3 linked regions of the Homo sapiens genome follow. The protein of the gene in region 1 purifies or fractionates together with the protein of each later gene. This does not show direct contact. Each region holds a gene or a part of one and is shown on either strand. Other genes may lie near its edges. The genes, in order: KCTD13, HSPB8 and FLNC.

What was found.
Region 2: the proteins of KCTD13 (region 1) and HSPB8 purify together in Homo sapiens (affinity purification with mass spectrometry; 3 studies listed by BioGRID and IntAct, with this or other methods). This does not show direct contact.
Region 3: the proteins of KCTD13 (region 1) and FLNC purify together in Homo sapiens (affinity purification with mass spectrometry; 3 studies listed by BioGRID and IntAct, with this or other methods). This does not show direct contact.

What each region holds. Positions count from the first base shown.
Region 1 is NC_000016.10:29,912,586-29,916,236, forward strand, and holds part of KCTD13 (BTB/POZ domain-containing adapter for CUL3-mediated RhoA degradation protein 1), read right to left. Parts: intron 1-3,651. UniProt on the Homo sapiens protein: Substrate-specific adapter of a BCR (BTB-CUL3-RBX1) E3 ubiquitin-protein ligase complex required for synaptic transmission.
Region 2 is NC_000012.12:119,192,043-119,195,351, forward strand, and holds the end of HSPB8 (heat shock protein beta-8), read left to right. Parts: intron 1-1,656; coding exon 1,657-1,816; 3' UTR 1,817-2,704; downstream 2,705-3,309. UniProt on the Homo sapiens protein: Involved in the chaperone-assisted selective autophagy (CASA), a crucial process for protein quality control, particularly in mechanical strained cells and tissues such as muscle. Displays temperature-dependent chaperone activity.
Region 3 is NC_000007.14:128,836,784-128,840,434, reverse strand, and holds part of FLNC (filamin-C), read right to left. Parts: intron 3,276-3,651; coding exon 3,178-3,275; intron 3,038-3,177; coding exon 2,887-3,037; intron 2,799-2,886; coding exon 2,680-2,798; intron 2,449-2,679; coding exon 2,371-2,448; intron 2,169-2,370; coding exon 2,006-2,168; intron 1,833-2,005; coding exon 1,632-1,832; intron 413-1,631; coding exon 275-412; intron 1-274.

The sequences.
Region 1 (3,651 bases):
ATGTGCCACCACACCCAGCTAATTTTGTATTTTTAGTAGAGACGAGGTTTCTCCATGTTGGTCAGGCTGGTCATGAACTCCCGAACTCAGGTGATCAGCCCGCCTCAGCCTCCCAAAGTGCTGGGATTACAGGCGTGAGCCACTGCACCAGGCCTATCAGTTCATTTTCTACACAGCAGTTAGTGTCTGACTTTTTCTAACTTTTTGTATTTGTTTATGATCTGTCTCTTCCCACCTAGGAATAACTACCTAGTATACAGCTGATGCTCTGTATTTGTTGAATGAATGAACATATTTGTTGAGTGAATGAACTTCATTGGGTGGGATGACGTTGGAGAAAGAAATCTGAAGCAAACCCATGGGCTTCTTTCTCTTCTGTCTTCTAGAATCTTCATGCCAAAATCCCTCTCACTTCTCCCAACCTTGAAAACTCAATGCGCAATTCTAATACAAATTCCAGATTTGTTTTTTGCAGAAACTCATAAGACTCTCTAAAATTAACAGAGAATAATAAAAGTCTACAATTACTGAGGCCATTTTTTTTTTTTTTTTTTTTTTGAGACAGGGTCTTGCTGTCATCCAGGCTGAGTGCAGTGGCATGACCACAGCTTACAGCAGCCTTGACCTCCTGGGCTCAAGCCATCCTCCCAAACTTAGGTCAGTTTTTAAAAATAAGAGCAAAGAGGAAAGGCCGACCCTGCCAGATATTAAGATAGGCTGCAAAGCCACAACAGTGAGAACGGTATCAGTTCGGGCACAGAAACAAAAATACCTGAGAAACACAACAGAGCGATCAGAAACAGACCACTGTGTATATGAGAATTGGTATTTTTAAAAAGACACCACAAATGTGCGAGGGGAATTACGGAGTATGAATTCGTTATCTATCACTGTGTAACAAACTGCCCCCAATTTAGGAGCTTAAATTAACAATATTTATTACTTCTGTTTCTGAGGGTCAGGATCTCAGCAGTGGCTCGGCTGGGTGGCTCCGGCACAGGGTCTCTTCTGAGGCTGTGGCCAAGATGTCAGTGGGGCTGTGGGCATCAAAGGCATGACCGCCCCTAGAGGATGCACTCTGAGAAAGCTTGTTCATGTGGCTGGCAAGTTCGCACTAGCTGCTGGCAGGAAACAACAAATCCCTGCCATGTAGATCTCTCCACAGGGTTGCTTGAGTATCCTCGCAGCATGGCAACTGGCTTCTCCAGAGCAAATAATTCCAGAGAGGGCAAGGTGGAAGCCTCATTGTCTTTTTTATTTTTGAGATGGAGTCTCACTGTGTCGCCCAGGCTGGAGTGCAGTGGCGTAATATCGGCTCACTGCAACCTCCGCCTCCCAGGTTCAAGTGATTTTCCTGCCTCAACCACCCAAGTAGCTGGGATTACCGAGGTGTGCCATCACGCCCAGCTAATTTTTGTATTTTTAGTAGAGACAGGGTTTCACCATGTTGGCCAGGCTGGTCTCAAACTCCCGACCTCAGGTGATCCACTCGCCTCAGCCTCCCAAAGTGCTGGGATTACAGACGTGAGCCACAGCGCCGGGCCCCTCCATTGTCTTTTATGACCTAGGTCTGTTGGTCCTATCCAGTGAGGAAGGAGATGACACACAGGAACGAGCACCAGGGGACGAGAATCATCAGGCTGCCTTGGTGGCTGGCTCCACAGGCCACCGCTGGCTCTCAGTGATTTCCCCCCTCCCACATGCCAAATATACTCACCACCTTCCAGGATCCCCCATCATCCCATTACAGCATCAGCTCAAAGTACAGAATCTCATCATCTCAGTCAGGTCCAGGTGGGGATGTGGCTCTAGCATGCAGTTCCGTAACTATGGCTCCTTAAGTGCATTTCTTTTTTTTTTTTTTTTTTGAAATGGAGTCTTGCTCTGTCTCCCAAGCTGAAGTGCAGAGCCACCACCATCTCACCTCACTGAAAACTCTGCTTCCCAGGTTCAAGTGATTCTCTTGCCTCAGCATCCCAAGTAGCTGGGACTACAGGCATGCACCACCATCCCAGCTAATTTTCTTTAGTAGAGACGGGATTTCACCATGTTGGCCAGGCTCGTCTTTAACTCCTGACCTCAGGTGATCCACTTGCCTTGGCCTCCCAAAGTGTTGGGATTACAGGCGTGAGCCACCGCATCCAGCCCTTAAGTGCATTTCCTATCTGCAGACCTGTGAGCTAAAGAGACAGGTCATCTCCACACTCCCAGTGTGCAGTGGTAGAGGCAGGCACAGGATAACCAGTAAGGACATTCTTGCTCAAAAGCAGGGGAAGCCGGGCGTGGTAGCGTGTGCCTGTCATCCCAGCTACTCAGGAGGCCAAGGTGGGAGGATTACTTGAGCCCAGGAGTTCGAGACCAGCCTGGGCAACATAGCAAGACTCTGTCTCAAAAAAAAAAAAAAGTGGGGCAGGGGACAGGAGGCACATATAAGTCATACATATAAGTCACTGGTGTGTGGAAATTCTGTAATCCAGTTGGAGAAATGCTAGGAACTCTTTGATGCCTACTCCTGTTCATGAATGATTCTCCATGGCTCTCCCTGAGTCGTCCCACCTCTTCCATGAAAGATGTTTGCAGCTCCACAGTTTCATCTGCCTGCTTCCTGCCTGTAAAAGTTTGGGTGTGCAAAGCCGTCTTGTCCTTTTGCACTGGCTCTGTCCCTTTCAGTCCAAGCTGGCAGTGTCTCTGCCAATATAATTCTCTTCATAACTTATTGGGTATCTTGCATGTCTTAGGGTTCACTACATTAGAAAAAAGCCACACCTAGAAATCTCTGCAAGTGGCCAGGCACAGTGGCTCACGCCTGTAATCCCAGCACTTTGGGAGGCCGAGGTGGGTGGATCACCTGAGGTCAGGAGTTTGAGACTAGCCTGACCAACATGGTGAAACCCCATCTCTACTAAAAATACAAAAATTAGCTGGGCGTGGTGGTGGGCACCTGTAATCGCAGCTACTCAGGAGGCTGAGACAGGAGAATCACTTGAACCCAGGAGGAGGAGGTTGCAGTGAGCTATCTCAAAAAAAAAAAAAAGAAAAGAAAAAGAAAAAAGAAAATCTCTGCAAGGTAAGCCCTTCTCTACTTTGGGCTTGTGCTGAGACGCTGAAAGACAACACCTTTAACCTTCTCAGAAGCGTGATTATTATTTCATTCGACTGGAAGTCCCCTCTGAGGCATCTTGTTGGTATTTCTGAGGTCTTAACAAAGGACTTTTTCATCACATCCTCAGCTTGACCTTTAGACCACATTTCCCTGTATTTAATGCCTTGTATTTAATCTTTGCACGGAAGCCATTTGTTAATTTTAACATCACTTGTTATCTGGAAAGGCTGGGAATTTTCAAACCCAACAATTTCAGGCTCTTTTTCATTTAAGTGTTTTTTTTCTTTAACTTACTCTCTCCTCTTCAGTTTTACTATAAGCAGCAAGAAGCCAGGTGGCACCTTCAACATTCTGTCTGGAAAGCTCCTTAGCTAGACCATCCGTTCCTTAGGTATATTTCCTACCCTCCACACTAATGCAGGAGACAGTGTTGCTAAACTTTCTGCCGCTACACAAGGATCTCCTTTCCATCAGTTTCCAATAGCATTTTCCTAACTGTTCTTCAAGCCCTTATTGCAGCTGTCTTAAAGGTCACTGGACTCTTATTA
Region 2 (3,309 bases), on another chromosome or scaffold:
TCATGGTTAAAAAAAATAATGGCACCCCAATGAGATCACTAATATGTCCTCACAGTTTTAATAGTTTGTTGAAGAAACCAAATTCTCAATAGTCTCATTCACCCAAAGCAATCCAAAAATCATAAAAATACCTTATTAGAAGTTGGACCAGATTTAGGTTTAGAAATTCCATCTTCGATGCTTTCTCACTTGTTGAGCTTGTCATTTGATTTCCCCCAAGTCTCTGTTTAGTGATCTGTAGAATGGGCATATTAATTCTTACCTCTTAATCATCCTCTTACAATACTCCAACCAAGTATTGTCTATAACTGAGTTTTAAGAACAAGATAATTGGCTGGGCTCGGTGGCTCACGCCTGTTATCTCAGCACTTTGGGAGGCTGAGGTGGGTGGATCACAAGGTCAGGAGTTCGAGACCAGCCTGGCCAACATGGTGAAACCCCATCTCTACTAAAAATACAAAAATTAGCCAGGCATGGTGGTGGGTGTCTGTAATCCACACTACTCAGGAGGCTGAGGCAGGAGAATTGCTTGAACCTTGGGAGGCGGAACTTGCAGTGAACCAAGATCGCGCCACTGAACTCCAGCCTAGGTGACAGAGTGAGACTCTGTCCCAAAAAAATAAAAGGAAGAACAAGATAATAATGATCTGCTAAGTGATTGTATTAGTCTGTTTTCACACTGCTGATAAAGACATACCTGAGACTACATAATTGATATATATATGAAAAAAAGAGTTTTAATGGACTCACAGTTCCACATGGCTGGGGAGGCCTCACAATCATGGCAAAAGGTGAAAGGCACGTCTTACATGGCAGCAGACAAGAGAGAAAATGAGAACCAAGCAAAAAATCTTATAAAACCGTCAGATCTCGTGAGACTTATTCCCTACCATGAGAACAGTATGGAGGAAACTGCCCCCTACCCATGATTCAATTATCTCCCATCAGGCCTCTCCCACAACGTATGGGAATTATGGGAGCTACAATTCAATATGAGATTTAGGTGGACACAGCCAAACCACATCAGAGATACTTAGGGTATGAACAAAATCAAGGCTTATTTTGAATACCATCGAGTATGTTGCCATCTGAAATCTACATGTGGCCAGCTTGGCCCCTTTTATCCACCAAGGTACCTAGTGCTTGCATCACCATTAATGCATTTTGTAGTGAAGCACTCTCCAGCAAGCACATGTCAGATGAAAATGTGTTGCCTGTTATGATAACACCTTACTTGCGCTCTATAAAGGGATGGTAGTGGTGCCATTTCTGCTAGTAATTGTGGTCAGTAGTGGGTATTAAGGTGATGACTTCAACCTGGGACCAAATATGTGGGCCACAGCTCTCTTTTAAGTTAAGAACTACTGTTCAAACAGCATTTTACCATTTGCAAAGCATACTCAGACTCTGAAGTTCAAATACTCTACAAGTTCAGTATTATTATCCTCATTTTGCAGATGAGAAAACAAGCTCAGAGCAACTGAATAATCTTCCCAAGACCACACAGCTAGAAAGGGGTAGAGCCAGGATTCAAACCCAACATTGTATGTCCCCAAAGCCTAAGCTCTTATCAAAAATATTTCCTCTCAAGTGAATAAAAGAATGTTTAAGCAATATTAACAACAATAAATGAATAAAATCGTGTGTTTCTCCTAGGCTTCCTGCAGAGGTGGATCCTGTGACAGTATTTGCCTCACTTTCCCCAGAGGGTCTGCTGATCATCGAAGCTCCCCAGGTCCCTCCTTACTCAACATTTGGAGAGAGCAGTTTCAACAACGAGCTTCCCCAGGACAGCCAGGAAGTCACCTGTACCTGAGATGCCAGTACTGGCCCATCCTTGTTTTGTCCCCAACCCTAGGGCTTCTCTGATTCCAGGATACATTACTTTAGCTGAACTCAGATTTAGTGCAAGTAAAATGTTAGAGGGTGCGGGGGTGAGGACTGACCACAGATTCCCTGGATAGTGTAGTGGTAGATTTCTCCACAGGATAGCGCAATTGGCAAATCATGCTTGGTTGTGTTAGGCCAAAATACTAGTTTTGCTTTCTTTACCTTTTCTATCTTGATGAAAATGTTGCACATTCTATAGTTGCAAAACACATAAAAGGGGACTTAACATTTCACGTTGTATCTTACTTGCAGTGAATGCAAGGGTTACTTTTCTCTGGGGACCTCCCCCATCACCCAGGTTCCTACTCTGGGCTCCCGATTCCCATGGCTCCCAAACCATGCCGCATGGTTTGGTTAATGAAACCCAGTAGCTAACCCCACTGTGCTTCCACATGCCTGGCCTAAAATGGGTGATATACAGGTCTTATATCCCCATATGGAATTTATCCATCAACCACATAAAAACAAACAGTGCCTTCTGCCCTCTGCCCAGATGTGTCCAGCACGTTCTCAAAGTTTCCACATTAGCACTCCCTAAGGACGCTGGGAGCCTGTCAGTTTATGATCTGACCTAGGTCCCCCCTTTCTTCTGTCCCCTGTGTTTAAGTCGGGATTTTTACAGAGGGAGCTGTCTCCAGACAGCTCCATCAGGAACCAAGCAAAGGCCAGATAGCCTGACAGATAGGCTAGTGGTATTGTGTATATGGGCGGGACGTGTGTGTCATTATTATTTGAGTTATGCTGTTGTTTAGGGGTAAATAACAGTAAATAATTAATAATAATAATAATAATAATAAAGGAGCTGACGTTCTTAGCCTTGTGTGGTTCTTTTAATGAGGAACTAAATGTAATACCACCTAGATATACAACATCAGTTAGCAATGCTGTGGCTTAAAGTAATGTTGCGCGGAGCCGCGATGCCTAAAGGAGGGAGAAAGGGAGGCCACAAAGGCTGGGCGAGGCAGTATAGGAGCCCTGAGGAGATCGACGTACAGCTGCAGGCTGAGAAGCAGAAGGCCAGGGAAGAAGAGGAGCAAAAAGAAGGTGGAGATGGGGCTGCAGGTGACCCCAAAAAGGAGAAGAAATCTCTAGACTCAGATGAGAGTGAGGATGAAGAAGATGACTACCAGCAAAACCGCAAAGGCGTTGAAGGGCTCTTCAACATCGAGAACCCCAACCAGGTGGCACAGACAACCAAAAAGGTCACACAACTGTATCTGGATGGGCCAAAGGAGCTTTCGAGGAGAGAACGAGAAGAGATTGAGAAGCAGAAGGCAAAAGAGCGTTACATGAAAATGCACTTGGCCGGGAAGACAGAGCAAGCCAAGGCTGACCTGGCCCGCTGGCCATCATCCGGAAACAGCGGGAGGAGGCTGCCCGGAAGAAGGAAGAGGAAAGGAAAGCAAAAGATGATGCCAC
Region 3 (3,651 bases), on another chromosome or scaffold:
GTAGTGAGCAGTGCTGCAACTCAGGGCAGGGAACACTTGTCATCCCTGTGCATAACACCCCGTATAGCACTTAGGGTGGAGAGAATCATTCCTGGCTTGTAGACCAAGAAACTGAGGCAGAGAGGAGACAATGAGCCTGAGATTCTGGGGTGCCTCTGGTCACTGTGGAGCTGTGGTGCTGGCTGTCACTGCCCTCTGGGAGTCAGAACCACTGGCCATACTTCCCTTATGATCCCCCAGCCCCACCCTCACGACCCTGGGCTCTGGCACTCACTTGGCCCCTTGACCGTGACCTTGAGCTCCCCGCTGCCGGCACCCTTGGTAAACACCTTGAAGTCAGCCACCTCTTTCACGCGAACACCCTTGGGCTGCAGGCCTCGCCCAGAGGCGCGGCAGGCGTTGGGGTTACAGGCTAGGGGAGGAAGAGAAAGGAGGTTGGGGGTGCTGAGGGGCCTTGGACCACTAGCCCCCACCTCCCTGTGCACAGTCCTTCTAACCCCTCCCAGGCACAGGCAGTGGCCCACGGCCCTGCTCTGGAGCCCTTTGTGTCCCCAGCACAACCGGGGCTGCCGGGCTGGAGCTGGCTACAGGCCCCAGATCAGGCAGGTTACAAGAAAGTTTCCGAGCCAGTGCCACTGGGGAAATGCATGGCAGAGCCTGGGCTGAGAGTGGGCTCAGAGAGACAGGGAAGGCCCCTTTACCCAGCCCAAGGCCATCCATCTAGAGCCCTCTGGGCCTCTCAGGGCACCAAAGCAACCTTAGGATCTAAGTCATGCCACAAAACATCCAGCAATGCCACAGAACAAGGGCTACTTCATAGAACTCGAAGCCTGCCATACAACACAGGCAACGTGTGGACATCAGCCTACCACAGACCGTGGCCAGTGGCAATGAGCCCAGGCCTTGCTATGGAACACAGGCAAAGGAATGGGAATCTCAGCCTGCCACAGAATCCAGAAAAATGGCATGGGACCCACAGGTGCTACGAAACAGGACACGACACATATTCCAGGACTACCATGACCATAGGCGATGGCACTGCCCAAGGGGTACCACGGAACACAGGCAATGGCTCAGAGCCCAGATTTCATCATAGAAATCACCAGGCAAGTGGCAAAGACACTAGACCTGCCACAGAACACAGACAACGGCATGGAACCTGGGGCCTGCCACAGAATGCCAAGGAAGGGGGGGCGATTCCACACGGCCCGGGCCATGCCACACAGCACAGGTGAGGCCAGTCAGCTGCGGCCATGCCTGGCCCCGCCTCCACTGGAGAGCATTAATGTGGCATCACTCTCGGCCTGGTGGACGATGGGCACTGAGTGCAGGGAGAGAACAAGTGGGGCAGTCACCACCTGAGGGCTTGGCATGCAGGCAGTACTCCCTAGATATGCCCCCACCCATACAGCCCCGTCACTTCCGCTCAGCCCTCCCAGGGTGGCACATGTTCTGGGACCCTTCACTGTGGCCTCCCAGCTGTGCTCTTAGGAACTCCAGCCACCTTGGGGGTGGGATGGAGGACTCAGGGAGGGGGTCTCTGCAGACCCCCGCCCCAGCTCTTCCTCCTGCCCCTTGCAAGCCTCTGGCTTTGGTAAGGGCTACCGTGGGGAGCAGTGAAGGGCCCTTACCTTCCGACACATGGACAGGGAAGGGACTGCGGGTGATGGGGGCACCCGCAAAGGCCACATGCACGGTATGTGGCCCCTCCATGGCAGGTCTGTATGTGCAGCGGAACGTGCTGTCACCCTTGTCCTCCAGGGCCACCTCCACTGTGTCCCGCCGGCCCTGTGGGTCCACGATCACCACAGCAACATCGCCAGTGCCGGCCCCTGCCGAAAACAGAGGCTGTCAGCACCACTCTGGACACACACAGCTGCCCCGGTGCCCTCACCCTGAGGCTGCCCACCCTCTGGCTGGCATCCCTGTCCCAGCCTCCCCCCACCCCCACACAGCCCCACATGGTCAGGGGCTTTCCACCTGCACCCCCTGGGGCCCGTCCTACCCGCAGTGTAGATGTCAAAGTAGGTGGGTTTGTTGGCCACATTGCCCACAGGTTCCAGGCCAGGGCCACGGGCTGACACCTTGTTGGCATCTCCCAGGGCCATGCCCACGTTCACCTCAAAGGGACTGCGTTCAATGTTCTGGCCAGCAAAGAGCACGGTCACCTAGGGGTCAGAGGTCAAAGGTTAGCTTCTAGGGGAGAGCAGTCCTGAGAGGGGGCAGAGGGGCACAGCCAGGCCAAGGAGGGTGAGAGGCGGGCAGCTGGGGCTCTGGGCAGGCGCGAGGTACAGGCTGAGAGAGGGGTCCATGCAGCCGGAACCAAGGATGTGAAGAGCAGCGCAGGCAGGGGGGCCTAGAGGGAGATACCTTGTGTAACCCAGCGACCTTGGGCACATAGGAGACAGCATAGGTGCGATCCTTGTCATTGTTGGGAACCACCTTAGCCTATTAGGAAGGAAAAAGATTGGAAGCCTCTCCAATGACCATAGCCCCTCCTGACCCCACAGTGCCTTATGCACCCCAGCCCCACTCAGCCCCCATGGTGACACCTTCCCCAGACTGCACAGCACAGTGTGTGGCTCTGGCAGTCACCTCCGGGCCATTCCTGTTGTTGGCCCCACGCTCTCTGGTTCCAATCCCAAGTGAATCCCTCTGTCCCCAGCGGCCTCTGCATACCTCCTCGGTGTGGCCTTCAGGGTCCTCGATGTAGACCAGCACCTCGCCCACGCCCGCGTCCACCGTCTGCACGGTGAAGTGGGCAGGCTGCAGCACGGTGTTGCCCTGTGGCTCGATGCCTACGGGGCAGGAGCAGAGCCCAGGTTACTCAGGGAGAGCCTACATGTGCCCAGCTGCCCAGGAGGGCCGCCAGGGGCTCACACATACCAGGCCCATAGGCGATGGCTTTCTTGGGGTTCAGCTGCTTGGATCGAACAGGGGCACCAGGTTTGAGCTTGGCCTTGGGGAACTGGGACAGGTAGGTCATAACAGAATGCTCATCCACGTTGGGGTCCACAATCTCCTCAGGGGCAATGACCTGCGATGGAAAGGAGTGATGTCACATGGCGCCCTCTTTTCCCAGCAGCCCCAGTCTCCCCCTGCACCCTGGCCAGGTAAACTTACAGACCCAACCTCTGCCCCTGCCCCCTTTCCCCCCTGCCCCATCTGCGCATGTACCTGGGGCACCCCAAGCCAGTCGTCGGCCTGCTGCATGGCCTCCCGGGCGTTCTCCACGGGCTGGTTGGGGTCCCAGGCCTCCCAGTCGGGGCAGAGACCTGGAGAGGTGATGGAGGGAGACGATGGTGAGGGGCAGCCAGCCGGCCAGGATGCAGGGCATTTGTTCACCCAACACCCTCAGAGGCTGTGGCTTTACACCCCTTCCCACCAGCTCTAGGCCTTGACCAGCCAGGTTCCTGCTGACCCCATCAGCTTCGAGGCCCCTCACCACGTAGGAGCAGGACAGCCCTCTCCACCACCAACAATGAAGCCTTTCTGCCCTGGCTGACGCAGCCTGGCACCAGCCCTGCTGGCCGGCCTCCTGCCTGCCCAGGCCCCAGCTCAGACCTTGAACCCCAAACCCTGGGAGGGTACCCCCTCTCGCTATCTCTTGCCTCATTCAGCTTTCTCAGGGGTGGGCAGAGGAGGTCAGAG